Linked DNA regions of Homo sapiens: regions 1 and 2 are each linked to region 3. Evidence: fine-mapped QTL for protein levels in blood plasma. A gene starts in region 3. Each other region holds a variant in brackets. All regions are shown on one strand. Distances are from middle to middle.

Region 1 (7,713 bases), 1.9 Mb after region 3:
AGCTCGTTATACTTCATTTTCCTAGGCAAAGGTGCAGAAAAACCAGCTTTGCAAATGTATGTCAAAATTGCACACTGACTAACCGGCTTCCCTCCTCCCTGCCCTGCCTCATTTTTCTCAAAAGCAGTGCCTGAAATAAAGGCAGAGTCCTTGTCTGCCTCTGTGTACTTGATACCGGCTTGTCAAGACCCACCCTTCCCTTTCACCTCGTCTAAAATTCACACCAGTGGACAGCAGGGCCTGCAGCATGTCTGTAGAAATTTATTTAAACTTATGTATGATTCATAGAAGACTGAGTACTTTGATTTGATGGGGATGGGCTATATTTCTTCCATTAACAAATTAATGGATTAGTTCATTAGATTAGCTACATTATGGAACACGTGGAGGAGATGGAGGATGAGTCACTTTTAGTTACAGGAGGAACAAGGTAATAAATAACTTCAAGTAGAACAATAAAAATTTGGACTTCTAAATAATTTGGATAACCCATTTTCCAAATATAGGCTAAGCCCCTGCTGTGGTTTAGCATTAAAAACATTTAAATAAAATAAATGTTAAATAAAAAAATACTTAAGGAATGTTTCCTAATATACACAACTGGTGTGTGCAATATACAATAAAACCTTTCAATCTAAGGACAAACTTACGAATAGGAAAACAAATATCAGATAATGCTTTTAGGCCAGGTGCAGTGGCTCACACCTGTAATCCCAGCACTTTGGAAGGCTGAGGTAGGAAGATTGCTTGAGCCCAGGAGTTCAAGATCAGTCTGGGCAACATAGTGAGACCCCTGTCTCTACTAAAAATAAATTAGCTGGGCATGGAAGGGCACGCCGTAGTCCAAGCTACTCGGGAGGCTGAGATGGGAGGATTGCTTGAGCCTGTGAGGTTGAGGCTGCAGTGAGCCGTGATCGCACCGCTGACACTCCGTGTCACTCCACCGCTGGGTGACAGAGTGAGACCCTGTCTCCAAAGGAAAAAAATAAGTGCTTTCACAAAGGCAAATTCCCCAACTTTCTTATTTCAATATATTTCCTCTTTTTTTAATTTCACATGAGATATGATGGGAGTGTGAGGGGAGGATTGAATGTTTTGGACAAGTAGTAACTTTGCCTTTCACTTTCTGCTGTGCTGTCTCAGGTCTTCCCCATAGATGCATAGCTTTTTCAGTCAGCTAGGGATGTGTGAAGACCTCATCTCAACACTTCCATGACTCTCATTTCTAGAATCTCCCTATTAAATCCCTGGCTGATTTGCTGCTATGGCCTAGTATTAAAAATAGCAACCAAGCTGGCAACCAAGAAGACTGGAGGTTTGGGCAACTGTTCCTTTTTATTTCATATCTAGGGAGATCATTGGATCCTTCCCTCCCTCCCTCTCTCCTTCCTTCTCTCTCTCTCTCTCTCATTTGAGATAAGTGAAATAGAAGATAAGATAGAAGGAGTCAGAAAGAGAAAATGGAGGCAAGAGTAAGGGAGAATGAGGAGCAAGGAAACCAGAGGGAAGCAGAGGCACAGAAGAAGAGAGAGGAAATGGTGCCAAGGAAAGGAGAAATTATGGTTGATGCCATTTGGCTGTAGTTAAAAGTAAAACTTGATACGGTGCTTTAAAAAAACAAAGCAGTAATTTTCCCTTATTTTAGAGGGGGGAAAGCAGGAAATGGTGAAAGAAGAGATGTCCAGATGAATGGAAGGATCAGAAAAAGGGGGAAGGTGAATTTTGTTTTTCTCCTCGAGTGCCTAGGCTTGGCAACCAGCACTCTCTAACATTACGTTGCTCCCACAGGTGGAGAGTTAAAGCAAATGTCTCCCAGTTTGTGGCGGCAGACACAAAATATATAGATCCCAAATACCCCAGAGAGCTTGGGCCTCTACTCAAGTTCCAACCACGTGTTTGAATGAATAAATTATATTTTATCTTTACTATGAGATGCTATATAACCATTAAAAAGAATGAATTGGAGGTATCCCAGCTGTCCTAGAAGGTTTTTCATGAGATGTTGGCGAGACAAGCAAGAAGAGCGACAAGAGCGAAACTCCGTCTCACAAAAAAATTAAAATAAAATAAAATTAGTATAATTAAAATTCTTTGTATCATTAAAATTCAGGCAACTCAGGCTCTGTCACAGTACAAGGTTAAGCCATTAGGTCATTCTTGAGTCCAATGGCTCACAACGGGGACTGGTGGTGGCACTCTGGCTTCTCTGAGTGGAGACCAGGGACACTGCTGAACATCCTCCAAAGCACAGGATGGCCCCACAGCCAAGACTCTTGTGGCCCAGAGTATCAGCAATGTCGAGCCTGTGAGATCCTGCTCTCACCCAGGCCTGCTTCCCAAAGCCCTTTAAGTCCTGAAGGGAGAAGACAGCAGGCTGCCTTCTTTCTGTTATTTAAATCCCACTTAACTCCCTCTTAGAGCATGTTCTTCTCCCTTTAAGACTAGCCTGGGGGCTGCGCGCGGTGGCTTACGCCTGTAATCCCAGCACATTGGGAGGCTGAGGTGGGTGGATCACCTGAGGTCAGGAATTTGAGACCAGGCTGGCCAACATGGTGAAACCCCATCTCTACTAAAAATGCAAAAATGAGCTGGGCATGGTGGCGGGCACCTGTAGTCCCAGCTAATTGGGAGGCTGAGGCATGAGAATAGCTTGAACCCAGGAGGCAGAGGTTACAGTGAGCTGAGATTGAGCCACTGCACTATAGCCTGGGTGATAAAGCAAGATTTAGTTTCAAAAAAAAAAAAAAAAGAAAAGAAAGAAAGAAACTAGCCTGGATAACATGGTGAAACTCCATTTCTACCAAAAAAACAAAAAAACAAAAAGAAAAGAAAAGAAAAGAAAAAAAATTAGCTGGGTGTGGTGGTGCATGCCTGTAGTCCCAGCTACTCAGGAGGTTGAGGCTGCAGTGAGCCATGATTATGTCACTGCACTCCAGCCTGGGCAACAGAAGAGACCCTGTCTCAAAAAAAAAAAAAACAAAAAAACAAAAAAACAAAACCCAGTGCAGTGGCTCATGCCTGTAATCCCAGCACTTTGGGAGGCTGAGGCGGGCGGATTGCCTGAGGTCAAGAGTTCAAGACCAGCCTGGCCAACATAGTGAAACCCTGTCTGTTACTAAAAATACAAAAATCAGCCGGGCGTGGTGGTGGGCACCTGTAATCCCAGCTACTCAGGAGGCTGAGGCAGGAGAAACTCTTGAACCCAGTAGGCAGAGGTTGCAGTGAGCTGAGATCGCGCCACTGCACTCCAGCACTCCAGCCTGGGAGACAGAGCAAGACTCCATCTCAAAACATAAAAAAAAAAAAAGGAAAAGAAACCCCTCACTCTCACCAGTCTTCTCCTTCCCCAGCCCCATCTACATGTGGTGGAGACCAGCCAAGGCTGGTCTTAAAGGGAGAAGAACATGCTCTAAGAGGGAGTAAGTGGGATTTCAATAACAAAGAAAGAAGGCAGCCTGTTCTCTTCTCTCTTCAGGACTAAAGGGCTTTGGGAAGCAGGCCTGGGTGAGAGCAGGATCTCACAGCCTCGGCATTGCTGATACTCTGGGCCACAGGGGTCTTTGTTGTGGGGCTGTCCTGTGCATTGCAGGGTGTCCAGCAGGCAGCCACCAGTCATTTTATATTTCTACAGGTTTGCCTTTCAATTCATAAATTGAATTATATAATATGTGGCCTTTTGTGACTGGCCCTTTCTGTTGGCACGATATTTCCCAGGTTTCTCCATGTTGTAAGCATGAATCAGCACTGAGTCCTTTTGATGGCTGAATGGTACTTCGTTGTGTGGGTACACCACATATACTGGTTGCTAGGGCTGGTAAGACAGTACCACACACTGGGCAGATTAAACAATCATTTACATTCTCAGTTCTGGAGGCCTCTCTTCTT[G/A]GCTTGGAGGTGGCCATCTTCTCTCAGTGTCCTCACATAGTCATCCTCTTGTGTGTGTCTGTGTTCTTATGAGGACATTACTCATACTGCATTTGGGCCCCACCCTAATGATCTCATTTTAATTTAATTACTTCTTTAAAGATCTTATCTCAAAAGAGTCACATCCTGAGGTACTGGGAGATAAGACTTCAACATTTGAATTTGGAGAGAGCATACTCAGCCCATAACACCCTGTCCTCTGCTCCCTGAAAATCCATGTCCTTCTCATATGCAAAATACACTCATCCCCATCCCAACAGTGCCAGAAGTCTTAACCCAGACCAGCATCAACTGTAAGTCCAAAATCTCATGTAAGTATCGTCTAAACCAGGTATGGGTGAGATTTGAGGTATGGTTCATCCTGAGGCAAAATTCTTCTCCAGCTGTGAACCTTTATGACCAGACAAGAAATTATCTGCTTCCCAAACAGGACAGGCAGAGTATAGACATTTCTAGTTTAAAAGTGGGACATTGGAAAGAAGAAAGTGGTCATGGATCTCCTGTCCTGGAACCTGGTAGGGCAAATTCCGTTCAATTTTTTTTTTTTTTTGAGACAGTTTCATTTCACCCTTGTCGCCCAGGCTGGAGTGCAGTGGCACGATCTTGGCTCACTCCAACCTCTGCCTCCTGGGTTCAAGTGATTCTCCTGCCTCAGCCTCCCAAGTAGCTGGGATTACAGGCATGAGCCACCATGCAAGGCTATTTATATGAGACAGGATTTCACCATGTTGCCCAGTCTGGTCTCCAACTCCTGATCCACCTGCCTCAGCTTCCCAAAGTGTTGGGATTACAGGCGTGAGCCACCGCGCCCAGCCCAATTCCAAGGCTTGAGAATAATCCTTTTTGGCTCAGTGTTCTGTTGTCTGGGTCCACAGGGTGGCCCTGCCTTCCAGGGCCATCACCCTGATTCCTCTACCCTAAATGGTGGCCCCACCCCTTGGTCCTGGGCTGGGGCATCCTGGCCTGCTGAAACCAAGGAAATGGCACCAGTCCTGCCCCTGAATCTGTGTGCCCTGGGCCCAAGGTGGCAGTAGCAACCTGGCAGATCTCTGAACTAGCTTCAGGGTCATTCTTCTCTTTCCTTTAAGGATAACTCATGATCATAGCCATATCGCTGTACTGGCTGGTCCTGCAGAATTCCAGAAGTCTGAGAATCTTCCTTCATTTCTTCCTATTTCTGTCTCCTTTGGTCCAAACTGGCAATGTCTGCTGGTATAAATTCTGAAAAACCTTGTTGGCCTCCTATGCAATCCATAGGGGGCGAGGCCATTTGACAAGAGGGCCCTCCACAGAAGTTCCTGGGAAAACCACATCTCTGTTCCCGACTTGCTGAGTTGGTTGACTGTATCCATGCATCACATTGGCCATCTTTTCAGATGGGGGTTCAGCCACACCCTTGGTCTTTTCTCCAGAATGTGCTTTCTCATTTTTTGTAGAATGGATAGACTGAGAGTTTTCCAAAAGTTTTGGTTCCTTTTTTTCTAAAAATTCCTTTTTTAGTTTATCTCTCTCCTTTCATATTTTACTATGAGCAGCAAGAAGAAATCAGGCCACCTTCAGTATTTTGCTTAGAAATCTCCTCAGCTAAATATCCAAGTTCATCATTTATAAGTTCTGCTTTCCATGAAACATGAGAATCCAATTCAACAAATTTCTTTGCCACTGTATAACAAGGTCCATCTTTCTTCTAGTTTCTAATACCATGTTCTCATTTCTGTCCAAGTTCTCACCAGAAGTACCTTTAACATTCATATTTCAACCAACATGCTGTTCCTGATGATACATGTATTCTCTAAGATGATAGACGCATTTTCTTTTCCTTTTTTATTTTTATTTTTTTGTGGAGACGGAGTTTCTCTCTGTCACCCAGGCTGGAGTGCAGTGGCATGATCTTGGCTCACTGCAACCTCTGCCCCCCGGGCTCAAGCAATTATCCTGCCTCAGCTCCCCGAGTAGCTGGGACTACAGGTGCATGCCACCACACCTGGCTAAGTTTTGTATTTTAGTAGAGATGGGGTTTCACCATGTTGGCCAGGCTGGTCTCAAACTCCTGACCTCAGGTGATCCACCTGTCTTGGCCTCCCAGAGTGCTGGGATTACAGGTGTGAGCCACGGTGCCCAGCTGATAGGTGCTTTCTCTACAGCTCTGTTCTTTCTTTCTCAGTCCTCACTGGAATCACCTTCAATGTCCACATTTCTGTTGTTGTTTTTTTTTTTCCTTTGAGTCTCGCTCTATTGCCCAGGCTGGAGTGCTGCGGTGGTGCTATCTCAGCTCACTGCAACCTCTGCCTCTCAGGTTCAAGCAATTCTTCTGCCTCAGCCTCCTGAGTAGCTGGGATTACAGGCACATGCCACCACGCCTGGCTAATTTTTGTATTTTTAGTAGAGACGGGGTTTCACCATGTTGGCCAGGCTGGTCTTGAACTCCTGACCTCAAGTTATCCACCCGCCTCAGCCTCCCAAAGTGCTGGGATTACAGGCGTGAGCCACAGCGCCCAGCTAATGTCCACATTTCTATCAACAGTCTCTTTAAGGCAATTTAGGCCTTTTCCAACATGCACCTCCAAACTCTTCCAGCCCTTACTCACTGTTTAGTTCCAAAGCCACGTCTGCTCACCAGCACCCTATTTCTTGGTACCCAAATCTGTACTGGTTGCCAGGGCTGCTGTAACAAAGGCCCACAGGCTGGGGGACTTAAACCACAGCCATTTATCTTCTAACAGTTCTGGAAGCTGGAAGTCTGAGACCAATGCGTTGGCAGAATGGGTTTCTTCTGAGGCCTCTCTCCTGGGCTTGCAGATGACCGCTTTCACCCTGTGTCTTCAGATGGTCTTCTTTCTGTGTGTGTCTGTGTCTAAAGTTCCTTTTTTTTTCAGACAGAGGTTCGCTCTTGTTGCCCAGGCTGGAGTGCAGTGGCACAATCTTGGCTCACTGCAACCTCTGCCTCCTGGGTTCAAGTGATTCTCCTGCCTCAGCCTCCTGAGTAGCTGGGATTACAGGTGTCTGCAACCACGCCTGGCTAATTTTTTGTATTTTTAGTAGAGACGGGGTTTCACCATGTTGGCCAGGCTGGTCTGGAACTCCTGAGCTCAGGTGATCCACCCGCCTTGGCCTCCCAAAGTGCTGGGATTACGGATGTGAGTCACCGCGCCCGGCCCTAAAGTTCCTCTTAAAGGATATCAGTCATATTGGATTACTGTCCTAATGACCTCATTTTAACTTGATTACTTCTTTAAAGACCCTGTCTCCAAACACAGGCATATTCTGAGGCACTGGAGGTGAGGACTTCATCACATACACTTGGAGGTGGGGGAGACAAAATTCTGCCCATAATGCCATATGTTATTTATCCATTCATCAATTCACACTTACATTTCCCTTTATTTTTTACTTTTTCTGTTTATTTTTTGAGACAGAGTCTCCCTCTGTCGGGCCAGGCTGGTCTCGAACTCCTGACCTCAGGTGATCCACCTGCCTGGGCCTCCCAAATTGCTGGGATTACAGGTGTGAGCCACCAGGCCTGGCCAATTAACACATTTCCTTTTATAGATTTAATTACTAAATCACTGTGAAAAATAACTCTCAGGTGTATAACAAGCTACAACTATTTCAACAACTTTACTAAGTTTTTTTACTTTTTATTTCTGTGACAGTTTTTCCTGATGGCTCTGAAAGTCACCCTAAGATGGTTCTCCGTACTTTATTGCCATTACTCTTCTACTTAAAAAAAAAAAAATCCACCATGTAATTTACATACCATAAAATTTATCCTTTTAAGGTGTTTAATTT
Region 2 (7,713 bases), 490 kb before region 3:
TTAAGCAACACAGTCCACGGGGAATGGGTTGCAGGTATTCTGGGGTTAATCGAGAGAGGGATTCAGAGTCACGGATTGTCTCAGCCATGGAGAATGAAGTATGAATCACATTGGAGGAGGTTATTACACAAAGAAAAAGATTTTATTGTCTTCTTAGTCAATATCCCTGGTGAAATTAGAGGCATAGCTTGAGACTGGTGACAGTGCAACACAGACCTTCAGGAGCTGCTTTGAGGACTGGCCTGCCCAGATGCCTGCTGTTAAGCCAGCAGCCCCCTCACTCCGGCCCCTGCCATCTTGACAGATGGAGCTGCCATGGTTTCAGGGACACTCAGCAGGGCATCTGGGTTGGTCCCTCCCACATGGACCTTGTAAAGTTGCTATTCAGGGGAACCTGGTATCGTTTCAGGCAAAACACAGAACCATATTAGCACTTCTAAGCCCCCTGCCCCGGCCGCCTCCCCGGAACATTTGGGCTTGTCGCACATTCCAGGAGGGAGCAGGAGCACAGCTGCAGCCACAGCTGCCAGGAACAGGCCTGGGCTCCCGCCCTGTGTGGGGGGAGGGCAGAGGCTGAGGGCTTCCTCTGGGGGCCCTGAGTAAGCTCACCCTCACCCCACCTCTCTGACTTCATCCATCCAAGGCCGCTTGGCCAAGAGCCCAGGCAGGGTGAGGGGCTGTCTCCCAGACCAGGCCTGGGCTGCCTAGCAGAGGTGGGGGAGGGGGAGCTTCAGGCCTAGCCCAACTCTCCAGAAACCAGGGGTAGCCTGCTGAGCTCTGAAATGCCAGAAGTTTAAGAAAAGAGGGAAGGGGGCAAGAGGTGGTGGTGGTAGTGGTACTTTGCTATTTAAAGGTAGAAGAATGCAAGGAAGTAAAACTTTTTTTCTCCATTTGTTGTTTGGCGACCCCATTGGAGAATTCCAGGAGGCATGCAGGATGACATCATGTTTTACAACTGAGAAATCTCAGTAATTCTGTAAAATGGAGTCCCTGCCTGCTCCATGTTCCTGATGGAAGCTGCTTTGTATTTATGTGCTTAAAGCTGTATTTTATGTCACATTTAAATGAGGGTTTAATAATCTTAATTATCTACCAAAAGTAGATTACGACGCATGAAGATCACATAAAATGAACTTCACTTCTCAGCATCACAAACATTTGGAATACAAAAAGTCCAGGGATGGATATTAGAAGTAAGAAAAGTACAAAAGAGGTTTGCTTAGAAATAACAAAAAATTAAAAAAAAAAAACGGATCCCCCCTCCCCCCAATCCAAATAATCGTGGTCTAGGTAACCATCGGGGTAAATGCTTCCTTTGCTCACTCCTGTAATAAGAATGAGCGCACACAGAACTGTATGTCCAAGTGTGTGTGCCAGAGACGCTCACATGCATCACACACACAAGCACATACACCCACAGGGACAGACGCACAGCCAGGTTGTGGTGGTTCTAGGCACTTCATATCCACGTTCTTAAGTCTGCCACCTTCCCATTACATTTAACAAGTTACTTCTTCGGCGGCAGGACGTTTTCTTCGAAGAAGCCCTCATTGACAACATTCCCCGCTGGGAAGTATCTGGCCACCACAAAGGAGGACCCGTCACTTGCGGACGCCTTCCCCACGCCCATCTTCTTGGTGTTCTTCCATACCATGGCCGTGAAGTGTCCTGTAGGGGAACGGGCAGAGGGAGAGGGACACGGCTGAATTAGCAGAGCCTGAAGAAGGATGTGGCAGGGGATTGTTGAACCCCTGTACCATCTTGCCAGGCTCAGGTCAGCATGGTCTTCACAGACCCCCTGCAGGGGAAGGAGAGAGAAAACACTCTGACTGCCTGACTTCTTTTTTTTTCCCCCAAGATGGAGTCTCGCTCTGTAACCCAGGCTGGAGTGCAGTGGCATGATCTTGGCTCACTGCAACCTCCACCTCCTGGGTTCGAGTGATTCTCCTGCCTCAGCCTCCCAAGTAGCTGGGACTACAGGTGCATGCCACCACGCCCAGCTAATTTTTTTGTATTTTTAGTAGAGATGAGGTTTCACCATGGTCTCGAACTCCTGACCTCAGGCGATCCACCTGCCTCAGTCTCCCAGTGCTGGGATTACAGGTGTGAGCCACTGTGCCTGGCCAGACTGCCTGAATTCTAAAGCAGGTCCTTTCTATCAGCCACACAGACCTTACCCACCTCACCACCTTCCAACAGTCTCCCAGAGATCACGACAAAGCCCAGTGGCCCCAACAATTAGGATGCCACTCTACTGCCTACTGCCTGTGTCTAACCCTGTCCCCAAGCTGTAATCTTGAAGCTCTCCAGTGATCCCCTTTTGTCTTCATCTTACTTGACACCTGAGGAACACTTCCTACTCTTCTCCTTTTCAAGGCACCCCTCCCCCTTTTGGTTTCTAGGATGCCACAGTCTCTTGCCATTCCTCCTGTCTCACTGCCTCCTCTTCCGCCTCCTCGCCCTCACTTATAGATATTGAAGGACCCACACTTCCCAGGGCTCAATCCTGGGCCCTTTTTTTTTTTTCCTCTAAGCTCTCTTTAGGGAATTTCATCTTTCCCTGGCTCCCAAATTTATTTCTCCAGCTCAAATCACTGCTCTGTGTTCCAGACATAACTAATTACTGGACATTTCCACATGGATGACTCACAGGCATCTCAGATTTAACCTTTCCAAACCTCACTCCCAGTTTTTGTCCCCCTAGATTTATTCCTCTCCCAGTCCTCCCATCTCCATCAATGGTACCTCCATGTGCACACTGCCAGGGGGAGTCTGCATCCCTCCTCTTCTTCCTTTTCCCCACAACAACCTAGTATTCAGTCTTGAAGAATCCAACTCTAAAATGCATCTCAGGTCCACCCACTCCCAAACCCTTGGTCCCAATTGCAAACTTTTCTCACATGGACCATTGCAATAGCCTCCTGACTGGTTCTATGGCATCCACCTTGGCCCCTCAAAATCATTTTCTTTTTCTTTTCTTTTTTTTTTGAGACGAGTCTCACCCTGTCACCCAGGCTGGAGTGCAGTGTCATGATCTCAGCTCACTGCAACCTCCACCTCCTTGGTTTAAGTGATCCTCCCACCTCAGCCTCCCAAGTAGCTGGGACTACAGGTGTGTGCCACCATGCCCAGCTATTTTTTTGTATTTTTAGTAGAGACAAGGTTTCACCATGTTGTCCAGGCTGGTGTTGAACTCCTGACCTCAGGTGCTCTGCCCACCTCGGCCTCCCAAACTGCTGAGATTACAGGCGTGAGCCTCATTTTCTACTTAGTATTCAGAGTGACCATTCTGAGATATAAATCATATCTATTTACTTCCCTGCTTAACAATCCTTCACTCGCTCCCCAATGCACTTAGAATGAAAGTGAATCCTTTGGTGCAGTGGCCTCCTCTCCATTCCTTGAACACACCAGAGTATGTCCCACCTCAGAACCCTTGCACATTTTTTTTCTTCTGTTTTCCTTCTTTCTTCTTCTCTTTTTTCTTCTCTCCCTCCTTCCCTTCCTCTTCTCTTTTTCTCTTCTCTTCCCTTCTTTCTGACAGGATCTCTGTCACCTAGGCTGGATGGAGTTCAGTGGCATGATCATAGCTTACTTCAGCTTCCACCTCCAGGGCTCAGGAGACCCTCCCACCTCAGCTTCCTGAGTAGCTGGGACCACAGGCACATGCCGCCACTGCCGAATCATTTTTCAAAAAGTATTTGTAAGGCCGGGCGCCGTGACTCACGCCTGCAATGCCAGCACTTCGAGAGGCCGAGGTGGGCGGATCATCTTAGGTTGGGAGTTGGAGACCAGCCTGACCAACATGGAGAAACCCCATCTCTACTAAAAATACAAAATTAGCCGGGCATGGTGGTGCATGCCTGTAATCCCAGCTAATCGGGAAGGCTGAGGCAGGAGAATTGCCTCGGTTTCCCAAAGTGCTGAGATTACAGGTATGATCCACCATGCCTGGCCAAGACACCCTTCTGATGACCAACAGCTTCTTGTCCCTTGGTCTTAGCCTAAATATCATTTGTTCAAAGAAGTCGTTTGCAAACACCCTTTTATTTATTTATTTATTTTTGAGACGGAGTCTCACCGTTGCCCAGACTGGAGTACAGTAGCGTGATCTCGGCTCACTGCAGCCTCCACCTCCCATGTTCAAGCAATTCT[C/T]CTGCCTCAGCCTTCCAAGTAGCTGGGATTACAGGTGCACGCCACTATGCCCGGCTAATTGTTGTATTTTTAGTAGAGATGGGTTTCACCATACTGGTCAGGCTGGTCTTGAACTCCTGACCTCAGGTGATTCACTCGCCTTGGCCCAGCCAAGTATTGGGATTACAGGTGTGAGCCACCATGCCCAGCCTGTAAACACCCTTTTATTTACCGACCATCTCCCTCCCAAGATATTCTTACCACACCATTTTTTCCCCTATGTACCATTCTTCCCATTTGTGTGATGCATTTGCTTGATTACTTGGTTACTGTTTGGCTCCTTCACCAGGCTATGTGTCCATATGGGCAGAGGCCAAGTTTGTTTTAATCACCAAAATGCACCCAGTACCTTGGCATAGCCTGGCACATGAAAAGTGTAAAATAAATGTTTGAAAGAATGAGTGGAACTGATGAATAAAAGTAATATAGAAGATCCATCTTGGACTCCAGTTCTGCCTTCACTAGAAGTGCAGCATTCTATGTTTTGAGCTTTTTGAGACTTCGACACATTACAGCCTCGTTCAAATCCTTCTGCTCTGAGCCAAACATCTCAGTTCCTTTTCAAGCTACTGCTCCACCCTCCAGACACCACTAGGTCTTGCTGAGGCCTCTTAGCATCAGTCTCCCATTTCTCAGGCTTCCTGTCCTTCACTCGCTTGTCCTTTCAAGCTACGAATATAGCTTAGCTTCCAAATCTCCTCCCATTTGGGAGTCAAAGAGTTGATGCTGTAATGCATTCTTTGCTCAACGATCATAAATTCTTTTTTTTTTGAGACAGAGTCTCTCTCTGTTGTCTAGGCTGGAGTGCAGTGGCGCGATCGTAGCTCACTGCAACCTCTGCCTCCTGTGTTCAAGTGATTCTCATGCCTCAGCCTCCTGAGTAGCTGGGACTACAGGTGAGCACCATCACGCCCAGCTAATTTTTGTATCTTTAGTAGAGATGGGGTTTCACCATGTTGGCCAGGCTGGTCTCAAACTCCTGACCTCAAGTGATCTGCCTGCCTCAGCCTCCCAAAGTGTTGGGATTACGGGCGTGAGCCACCATGCCTGGCCTAAATTCTTATTTCTTGGGGAGTAGAGGCAGATGTTCATCCCTTCCATCTTTATGGTTTAGCATTTACAGAGATCAATGAGACATTTATTTTCTGTGTCACAGGATGGCATTCATTTGCTAAAGCAACACTGAAGAGATTGTTCCCTCCTAAATATCTGGCTTATGATTGGGCAAGCTATGTGAGGGCACGTGCCACATCTGTTTTATTGATCACCATATACCTAGTGTTTAGCACTGGGCCTGGCACATAGTAGATGCTCAATAAACATTTGATGAGGAAAGGAAGAAACGGAGGGAGGGAGGAGGAAAGTCATGATCAGAGTATCTAAGATTCCCATAGGGTGGTTAAGAAAGAAAAAAGGGCAACCACTTCACACTCAGCAGGATGGTTACTATGAAAAACAGAAACAAAAATAATAGAACATAACAAGTTTTGGCAAGGAAGTGGAGAAATTGGAACTTCTGTGCACTGCTGATGGGAATGTAAAATGGCACAGCTGCTCTGGAAGACAGTATGGCAGTTCCTCAAAAAATTAAACAGAATTGCAATGACTCAGCAATTCCACTTCTAGGTATATACCCAAAAGTACTGAAAGCAGGGATTCAGATATTTATACGCCCATGCTCCTAGCAGAGAGGTTGAAAGATTGGCCCAAAGTCACATAGCCCGGTCGGGCGCAGTGGCTCACGCCTGTAATCCCAGCACTTTGGGAGGTTGAGGTGGGCGGATCACTTGAGGTCAGGAGTTCAAGACCACCCTGGCCAATGTGATGAAACCCCGTCTCTACTAAAAATAGAAAAATTAGCCAGGTGTGGTGGCACACGCCTGTAATCCTAGCTACTGGGGAGGCTGAGGAAAGAGAATTGCTTGAACCTGGGAGGCAGAGGTTGCAATGAGCCGAGACTGTGCCATTGCACTCCAGCCTGGGTAACAGAGTGAGACTCCATCTCGAAAAAACAAAAAACAAAAAAAAAACCCACAAAGACACACAGCCCAAGTGTCCATCAACAAGTGAAAGGATAAGCAAAATGTGGGAGATATATATGTATATATGTGTATATATATATGTGTGTGTGTGTGTGTGTGTGTGTGTGTGTTTAACAGATATTATTCAGCTTTAAAAAGAAATTCTGAGGCCGGGCGTAGTGGCTCATGCCTGTAATCCTAGCACTTTGGGAAGCTAAGGCGGGTGGATCACCTGGGGTCAGGAGTTTGAGACTAGCCGGGCCAATGTGGTGAAACCCCGTCTCTACTAAAAATATAAAAATTAGCTGGTCATGGTGGTGGGTGCCTGTAACCCCAGCTACTTGGGAGGCTGAGGCAGGAGAGTCGCTTGAACCTGGGAGGCAGAGGTTGCAGTGAGCCAAGACTACACCACTGCACTCCAGCCTGGGCGACAGAATGAGACTCCATCTCAAAAAAATAAAAAATAAAAAAATAAAAATAAAAAAGAGACTGGGTGTGGTGGATCATGCCTGTATTCTCAGCACTTTGAGAGGCCAAGGTGGGCAGATCAAGAGGTCAGGAGTTCGAGACCAGCCTGGCCAACATAGTGAAACCCCATCTCTACTAAAAATACAAAAAAAAAAAAAAAAAATTAGCTGGGCATGATGGCGGGTGCCTATAATCCCAGCTACTCAGGAGGCTGAGGCAGGAGAATCGCTTGAACTCGGGAGGCAGAGGTTACAGTGAGCCAAGATCACGCCATTGCACTCCAGCCCGGGCAACAGTGTGAGACTCCGTCTCAAATAAAATATAATAAAATAAAATAAATTAAAATAAAAAGGAATTCTGACACGTGCTCTAATAAGGGTAAACCTTGAAAACATGATGCTAAGTGAAATAAGCCAGACACAAATGGGCAAATATTGTATGATTCCATTTATATGAGGTAGCTAGAATAGTTAAAACCAAAAGTAGAACAATGGTTGGGGTGGGGTGGAGATGGTTTCAGGATGAAACTGTTCCACCTCAGATCATCAGGCATTAGATTTTCATAAGGAGCATGCAACCTAGATCCCTTGCGTGAGGAATTCATAATAGGGTTCATGCTCCTATGAGAATCTAACGCCACTGCTGATCTGACAGGAGGCGGAGCTCAGGCAGTAATCTTACTCACCCAGGCTCACCTCCTGCTGTGCGGCCCAGTTCTTAACAGGCCATGGGCCCATACAGGTCCACTGCCCAGGAGTTGGGGTCCCCTGGTCTAAGGGGTACTGAGTTTTAATCTGTGAAGATGAAAAGAATTCTAGAGATGGATGGTGGCGATGATTGCATAACAGTGTAAATGTGTTTAATCCCACTGAACTGTATACCTAAAATGGTTAAAATGGTAAATTTTCAGTTATATGTGCTTTACTACAATTTCTTTTTTTTTTTTTTTTTTTTTTTTTTTAGACATGGCTTCACTCTGTTGTCCAGGCTGGAGTGCCGTGGTGCAATCATGGTTCACTGCAACCTCCAA
Region 3 (7,713 bases):
CTCATGCTTCAATCCCTCCTGCACTGGAGGGAGCCCATCTCCAGCCTCAGACCTGAAGCTCCAAAGGGTGATTCTTTATGAACTAGGCCACAGAGATTAGTGGCCAGACCAACAAACTGACCTTCCTCAGCGATTTCTTCCAAGCGAGACAGCAACTGCTCATAGGCACTGTTTTCTTCCGGGCCCTCCTGGGGGATGACATTGTAAGACAGATGAGTGCATGTATCCAGGGCCATGGCTGAAGGCCGGAACATGAAGGGGGGTTCCCATAGACCTCTCCCATTCCTCAGCTCTGAGAATGCTGAGGGAACATAAAATTGTAATGGTTGTTGCTTTTTGTTGTTGCTGTTGTTTTTTTTTTTAGAGACAGTGTCTCCCTCTTAAAATCCTATGTATTATTTCAAACTCTATGTACTCTTGCTGTGCGAACCAACAAGCTTGGTGGACTGGTTTTCAATGACAAGCTGGAGAGAGAGGGAGAGAGCCCACTTTACTTAGGATACTAGGCTCTCAGTGACCCGTGCCCTTCTGACGTTTGCAGTCTCACTCACTGCTGCCTCCGTACATACTCCCCACAGGAAACCATATATACACCTTTGTGTTGGTGTCACCTCTGCATTCACCTTCATGATTCTGTGTTTGGCTTTTCAGGTGAGGTCCTGACATGCCACTTCTTTTATTTATTATTCTTTTTTCTTATTTTGCTTATGAACCTAATGTTAAGAACATTATGAACCTAAGAGTATGAACATATTGACATGCTATGATGGAGGCATTTCTCTGAACTTTGTGCTGTGTGGCTGGCATTAAAGAATCAGTGAGTGTGGCTGGGCACGGTGGCTCACACTTGTAATCAGCACTTTGGTAGGCTGAGTCAGGCGGATCACTTGAGGCCAGGAGTTTGAGACCAGCCTGACCAACATGGTGAAACCCTGTCTACTAAAAATACAAAAAAAAATTAGCTGGGCATGGTGGCACACACCTGTAACCCCAGCTACTCAGGAAGCTGAGGCAGGAGAATCCCTTGAACCCGGGAGGCGGAAGTTGCAGTGACCCAAGATCACACCACTGCACTCCAGCCTGGGCGACAGAGAGACTGTCAAAAAAATAAATAAATAAATAAAAGTGAGTGAGTGAACCTAGCAGGCATCTCACCATCCCTTCCCTTTACTGGCCTCCTCTAATCATGGTGTATGTAGCCATTCCCTAAATAGGCCATATTCTGAGTCTTTGCACATTCTGTTTCCTCTGCAATGAACACCTCCTTTTCTTTTCTACCAGTGAAGGCTTTAAGTGTCACCTCCTCTGTGACCACCATCTTTACTATGTCCTTCCTATGTGTCTGTCATGTCAGCCTCCCCCACTGGCTGTGGGCTCCTTAGAGGCAAGGACCTACAGCTTCAGAATCCTTGTTGGGGGCTGGTGCCTGGTTCACAGTGGGTGTTAAATGAACAAACAGTGCGTGAATGAGTTTGTCAGCCAGGGGCCTGAGTGAGCTTGCTGGGATGGGGTCTCTGGCTCCACGATAGAGTCCGGGAGGAGCATGGGATGGGAAAGCGGGGAGTAGGGGGTGTCCAGGATCTGGTACCTCCAGAAAGGCGGCCAACACGGCCAGGCCTCCCGGGCGCCCCAAGGCCTCGTCAACTCTGGCAAAGGCGGTGCTGAGGTGAACCACGTGGATCTGAAAAGGACACGAGGGTAGGAGAGGGCCACGTCTCTGGCCCCGCTCCGCCCCGCTCCTTTGCCCCTTCTCGGCCAGCTCCGCGCTCACCTCGGCAGGGAAACGGTGGCCTTCCACAGTGTGCTCCGAGCCCGGACGACCTGCAGCCCCCCAGTGCAGATGCAGCTGCAGAGCCCGGTACTCCCGCCCGGGACCCAGAGCCATCTCTAGCCCAGGAGGCAGGGTCAGTTGCACTGCGTAGGGAGAGGCAAGTGAGCCGGCCCCGCCCGGTAGGGCCAGCCCAACCCCCGGGCAGGCACTGCCGCGACGGTTCCCTTCCCTGCGCCCCGCCCCATCCCCAAGTCTCGGCGGGGAGACCCCCTCACCACTGTGGCCATTGTTGCGCAGGCGCAGTTCTGGGAGCGGCGGGAGCTGGAAGCCCAGGAGTTCCAGGGGGCGCAGGGCCGGGCAGAAGGCGGCGAGCTGGGGGCGGATATCCACCGGGGACTGGAAGCGGCCCGCGCAGGCTGGGGACACCCGGGGCCAGGGCGGGTCGCCTGGGGTGGGAGAGTATAGTGAGGAAGTCTGACGCCTAGGTCAGGAACTTAGGGAACCCGGGTAGAAAAGGTGAGGGGGTGGGACGGTGGGCGGCGGGTGGGACGCCCGGGACCAGTGTTCAGGGACGGCTGTAGGGGAGATCCACAGAGCTGGGTTCCCAGATTGGGTCTGTGCAGCGGGTGGGTGTCTCACCTCCATAGCGCCAATGACTCTGGTCATCCCCTGTATAAATGAAAAGGATGAACCGCTCAAGCTTAGAGCCCCAATCCCTTCCTGGCGACCAAAACGATGTCACAAACGCAGATGCCTTACAGGAGCATTACGGGTAACAAATGCCTTAAGCGGGCCAGGTGCAAAGCACAGGAGACCGCACCCAAACTCAACACCGCAGCTGGGTGGGCCAAACAGCAATCCTACCAGCTTGCAATCATTGTCTTAGGGTCTGTAAAAGTGAGTGGCTGCTTCAGGCCAGGCGCTGTGGCTCACGCCTATAATCCCAGCACTTTGGGAGGCCAGGGTGGTTGGATCACCTGAGATCAGGAGTTCGAGACCAGCCTGACCAACATGGCGAAACCCCGTCTCTACTAAAAATACAAAAATTAGCCGGGCGTGGTGGCGCATGCCTGTAATCGCAGCTACTTGGCTAGAGGCTGAGGCAGGAGAATCACTTGAACCCGGGAGGTGGAGGTTGCAGTGAGCCGAGATCGCGCCATTGCACTCCAGCCTGGGCAACAAAAGTGAAAGTTTGTCTCAAAAAAAAAAAAAAAAAAAGTGAGTGGGCACTTCAGTCCTGAGTCCCAAATGAGTGAGTACACCATCTTTCCTTTCTCCCTTCTTTCTTCTCCCCACTCATCCCTCTGCCTTGTATGGTCTCCAACCCCTTTCCCCAAATTCCTGGCTTGGGAGTCAAGAAGCCACGTTTCTCTACCTGCTGTGTCCCTTCTTCCTAGGTCTCAATTTCCTCATTGTAGCCTAAGATGAGATGACTTCTACCAGCTCTTCTTGCTTGTCTCTGGTACCCACTTCACCTCCCAAGCTTTCCTTTTCTCTTCCCCTCAAACTCTCTGACTCTCCTTCTCCACCTATTTTTTTCCTCTGTCTGCACATTTTTTCTCTCATCTGCAGTTCTCATCCCTTTCTCTTCTCCAGCCTCCCCCTTCTCTCCCATCTCATCCAGCTCACCTCTCTCCTTTTGCACCCTTTTTATTTTCTCTCCACATCTGTCCCTTTCTACCTCCGAGAGTGGGGATGGGGATATTGGTATGGGACCTCTGGAAGGGCTTCTGTGGGGAGTACAGTCTCCCCTCCTTCCCTGAGTGAACAGAGCCTAGGCTGGGGTATGGGAGGGGAGTCATGAACCTCCTGGAACCTGGATTTGGAGATTGATGACCACTTACCTTCTTTGTCCCTGTGGGCATTATTCTGGGGTTCTTGAGGATCTCCAGGAGCCTCAACAGTAGGTAGATCCTCTAACTTCAGGGAGCCCTCTTCTTCTGATTTAGGCTTAACTTCAGGTAGATCCTCCTCTCCAGGTAGATCCTCCTCTCCAGGTAGATCCTCCTCTCCGGGTGGATCCTCCTCTCTGGGTGAATCCTCTTCACTGGGCAGATCCTCCTCGCCCAGTGGGTCATCTTCCCCAGAAGAGCCTCCTCCCAAGGGGGAATCCTCCTGCATCCGGGGCAACCTCTGGGGATGGACAGGCACCAGAAGCAGCAGTGACAGCAGCAGTTGCACAGTGAGGCCTGGAGCAGGGGCCGGGATCAACAGAGGGAGCCAGGGGCTGGGGCACAGGGGAGCCATGCGGCTGACTGTGGGGTGTCCCAGCACACGGTGTGTACGGGCTGTACGTGCATTGGAAACGAGAGCTGGGTGGGGGAGGAGCAAGCCTGGAGGGGAGCAGGCTGACTCACAGAGCGCCCTTTTGCAGAGATGGAGCCAAAGTCTCACAGGTTTGTCTGGCCCTGTGCCCTCTCCCCCATACCAAAGCTAGGATGGGGGTGGAGTGAGGGGCAGGTGTGTGCACAGGCAGAAGGTTATCGGGGCCATGGACTCAGCTTGGAACCCAAGGCACCACCTGGCACTATGCAGGCTCTCCCTGGCACCACCCAGCTGCTTGCCAGCCAGCCTCAGCTAACCCTGGCCTGCTTCCCAGCTCCAGGCACAGAAGGGGAAAGGCAGGGGAGCTGGGGCCCCCATGTCCTCTGGCTGAGAGGGAAAGCAGCTCATGTATACATCCCTGACTCCACCAGGAAGCAGGTAAAGAGGTAGGGCAGGCTGCTAGGGGAGCCCGAGGGTGAGTTAAGTAATGGGTATGTGGGAGACAAACTTGAGCTTGAATGAAAAGCAAGTGTATGTGTCAGAGGGGCTCTGATAGGTTTAACCTATATTTATTTTTCAACACATTACTCTCCTGCTCAAAAGCCTTCATTGGCTCCCCACTGCCTGCCACGATATGCACATTGTGTACTTCTGACTTCCAACTTCCTTCAAAACCTTGCCCAAGAGACCTTTCCATCTTGTCTCCTACTACTCTCCCTCATACTCTAGCCAAATTAAACTATTATTTTTTTCTCCAAACCTTTTACCACCTTTGTTAATCTAGTTCTTGCTCCCTGAAATGCTATTTACTATTGCATTCAACAAATATTTATTTAGTACTACCATAGGTCCAGCACTGGGCTATGGACTAGGGACATGGAAATGAATAAGACACGGTCCCTCATTTTGGGAGGCTGAGGTGGGTGGATTGCTTGAGTCCAGGAGTTCGAGACCAGCCCGGGCAACATGGCCAAACCCTGTCTCTACTAGAAATACAAAAAAATTAGCCAGGTGTAATGGCATGTGCCTGTAGTCCCAGCTACTCAGGAGGCTGAAATGGGATGATGGTTTGAGCCGAGGCGGTTGAGGCTGCAGTGAGCTGAGACTGTACCATTGCACTCTGGCCTGGGTGACAGAGCAAGACCCTGTCTCAAAAAAGAAAAACAAAAACAAAAACAAAAAACGCTACCTGCCCTGAGCAGCTCACAATCTAGTGAGTGAGGGCAAACCCTGTCAATATCATCATATTGAGGGAAGAGAGATGAATTCTGCTTTAGAAGATAATATAGAAGTAGGCAAATTTGATCATGTCCTTGAAGAAATACCAGTTCCATTGGTAAAAACAATAGGGAGAATGATATTCTGGGCAAAGGGAAGGCATAAAATATTATGAGCAGGAGAGTGACAGAATCCAGTTCTCATACTAGGTCACGTTGAGGGCTTGAGGGCTAGTATGGAGCACAGATTGCAGGGGAAGACTGGGTGCAAGGAGATGGGGCAGAAGAGTGTGAGGACACCAAGAATGGGCTTAGGCCTCCCAGTTTTTTTCTTTTCTTTTCTTTTTCTTTTCTTTTCTTTCTTTTTTTTTTTTTTTGAGACAGAGTCGCACTCTGCTACCCAGGCTGGAGTGAAGTGGCGCGATCTCGGCCCACTGCAATCTCCACCTCCCAGGTTCAAGCGATTCTCTTGCCTCAGCCTCCTGGGTAGCTGGGACTACAGGCACCTGCCACCACGCCCAGCTAATTTTTGTATTTTTGGTAGAGATTGGGGTTTTGCCATGTTGGCCAGGCTTGTCTTGAACTCCTGACCTCAGGTGATCTGCCCGCCTTGGCCTCCCAAAGTGCTGGGATTACAGGCTGGTTTTTTTTTCTAATTAATTATTTTTAAAATTTATTTTAGAGATGGGATCTCACTGTGTTGCCCAGGCTGGAGGGCGGTGGCTATTTACAGGTGCGACCCTGTTACTGATCAGCATTGAGTTTTGACCTGCTCCAATTTCCACCTGGGTCAGTTCAACCATCCTTAGGCAACCAGGTTGATGCAGAACTTAGTGCAGACACCTGACTGGTATACTACACTACAGCCCAGAAATCCTGGGATCAAGTGATCCTCCTGCCTCAGCCTCCCAAGTAGCTGGGACTACAGGCACACGCCATCACACCTGGCTAGTCTGCCCTTTTAACAATTTATTAAGCCTCCGCCAGTCCTTCAGGTGCTGTTCTAGGCCCTACAGATGCAGCATTGAATAGAGAATAGCTCTACTGTTTTGTAGCTCACATTCTAGTAAGGCTCCATTGGCTTAAACAAACTAAAAGAGAATAAGGCCATTTCAGGTCCATATCTAGGGCTAATATTCAGTAGGCACCCACCAATATGGTTGTGTAGGTTAATTAAATACATTAAGATATTTCTAATCCTGTTGGCATATAGCCATGGCCCCTAGCTCCAGGGTACCCCTGCTACCCTAGCTCTTCCTTAGGGACCCTCCAGACCTCCTGATCCCTTATCTAAAGAGGTATTCCCTGGCATAACAGAGTCCCCAGGAGCCCACTTGAGTGCCTCAGCCACCTTCAACTCTGATAGGTCAGTGCTTGTGCACTTGCTGCTGTGTCACAAATAGTTTTACTGGCCAGGTGCAGTGGCTCATGCCTCTAATACCAGCACTTTGGGAGGCCGAGGTGTGCAGATCACCTGAGGTCAGGAGTTCGAGACCAGCCTGGCCAACATGGTGAAACCCCGTCTCTACTAAAAATACAAAAATTAGCTGGGCATGGTGGCAGGCACCTGTAATCTCAGCTACTCAGGAGGCTGAGGCAGGAGAATCACTTGAACCTGGGAGGCAGAGGTTGCAGTGAGCCGAGATCGCGCCACTGCACTCCAGCCTGATCGACAGAGTGAGACTCTGTCTCAAAAACAAACAAACAGACAAAAATCGTCGCTAACATAGTGAAACCCCGTCTCTACTGAAAAAAAAAAAAAAAAAAAATTAGCCGGGCGTGGTGGCGGCCGCCTGTAGTCCCAGCTACTCAGGAGGCTGAGGCAGGAGAATGGCGTGAACCCAGGAGGCAAAGCTTGTAGTAAGCCAAGATCGCGCCACTGCACTCCAGCCTGGGCGACAAAGCGAGACTGTTTCAAAAAAAAAAAAAAATTTTACTGTCCTCCCTGTCTAATCTCTTCTGTTCTTTGAAACTCAGATGAAAGGCCACCTCCTTCAGGAAACTCCTTAACCAACCCTCTACCACTAGTCTGGAAAAGATCCCTGGCATCTTTGAGCCAACCCAGTTCTTTGCCTGCCCTCAATAATAACTTTGTCCACCGTCTAACTCATATAAGGGTGATAACTCATTTTATCTGCTCTAACGGCCTTCAGCTCCATAAGGGCAGGGTCCGTACTTGATTGAGTCAGTCTTTTATTCAACAGCCATTATTGAGCATTTTCTTTTTGCAGATTACCTTGCCAGATGCTTGAGAAATACCAAATTGACTAAGATATATTCTCTGCCCTCAAGGAGCTCATTGTCAATGACCTGTGCATGTCCACAACTATCCCATAAACATGACATAACTTTTTACATTATTATTATTTTTGAGACAAGGTCTTACTCTGTCACCCAGACTGGAGTACAGTGGCGTCATAGCTCACTGCAGGCTTGATCTCCTAGGCTCAAGTGATCCCC

Direction of the effects. Positions count from the first base shown, and alleles are read on the strand shown. Strength reflects both the effect of a copy and how common the allele is.
With allele G in place of A in region 1, the plasma level of the protein whose gene starts at base 4,050 in region 3 is higher (weak association).
In carriers of allele C in region 2, the plasma level of the protein whose gene starts at base 4,050 in region 3 tends to be higher than with T alone (weak association).

What was found. PIP is the chance, under the fine-mapping model, that this variant and not a neighbour inherited with it causes the effect. The UK Biobank Pharma Proteomics Project read protein levels with antibody pairs (Olink). The fine-mapping took linkage between variants from a reference panel, not from the people measured, so its PIPs are less certain.
Region 1: its variant is fine-mapped to the plasma level of the CA9 protein (UK Biobank, PIP above 0.99).
Region 2: its variant is fine-mapped to the plasma level of the CA9 protein (UK Biobank, PIP above 0.99).

The regions. Positions count from the first base shown.
Region 1 is chr9:33,766,910-33,774,622 of GRCh38, reverse strand. All of the region lies in intron 3 of UBE2R2-AS1 (UBE2R2 antisense RNA 1), which reads left to right. It also overlaps a transcript of PRSS3 not described here. Among named protein-coding and RNA genes, the nearest start is that of PRSS3, 25 kb to the left of the region's middle. The variant G/A (reference allele first, on the strand shown) is at 3,886.
Region 2 is chr9:36,156,317-36,164,029 of GRCh38, reverse strand. GLIPR2 (GLI pathogenesis related 2) reads right to left here. Exons shown (of 5, transcript NM_022343.4): 5 at 124-1,668. The coding sequence ends at 1,508. Among named protein-coding and RNA genes, the nearest start is that of CCIN, 9.2 kb to the left of the region's middle. RefSeq lists enhancers at 1,118-1,698, 1,699-2,279. The variant C/T (reference allele first, on the strand shown) is at 4,156.
Region 3 is chr9:35,670,265-35,677,977 of GRCh38, reverse strand. It overlaps CA9 (carbonic anhydrase 9), which reads right to left and starts at 4,050. Exons shown (of 11, transcript NM_001216.3): 1 at 3,616-4,050; 2 at 2,411-2,440; 3 at 2,047-2,217; 4 at 1,772-1,914; 5 at 1,589-1,681; 6 at 122-188. The coding sequence starts at 4,018. It also overlaps the pseudogene RN7SL22P.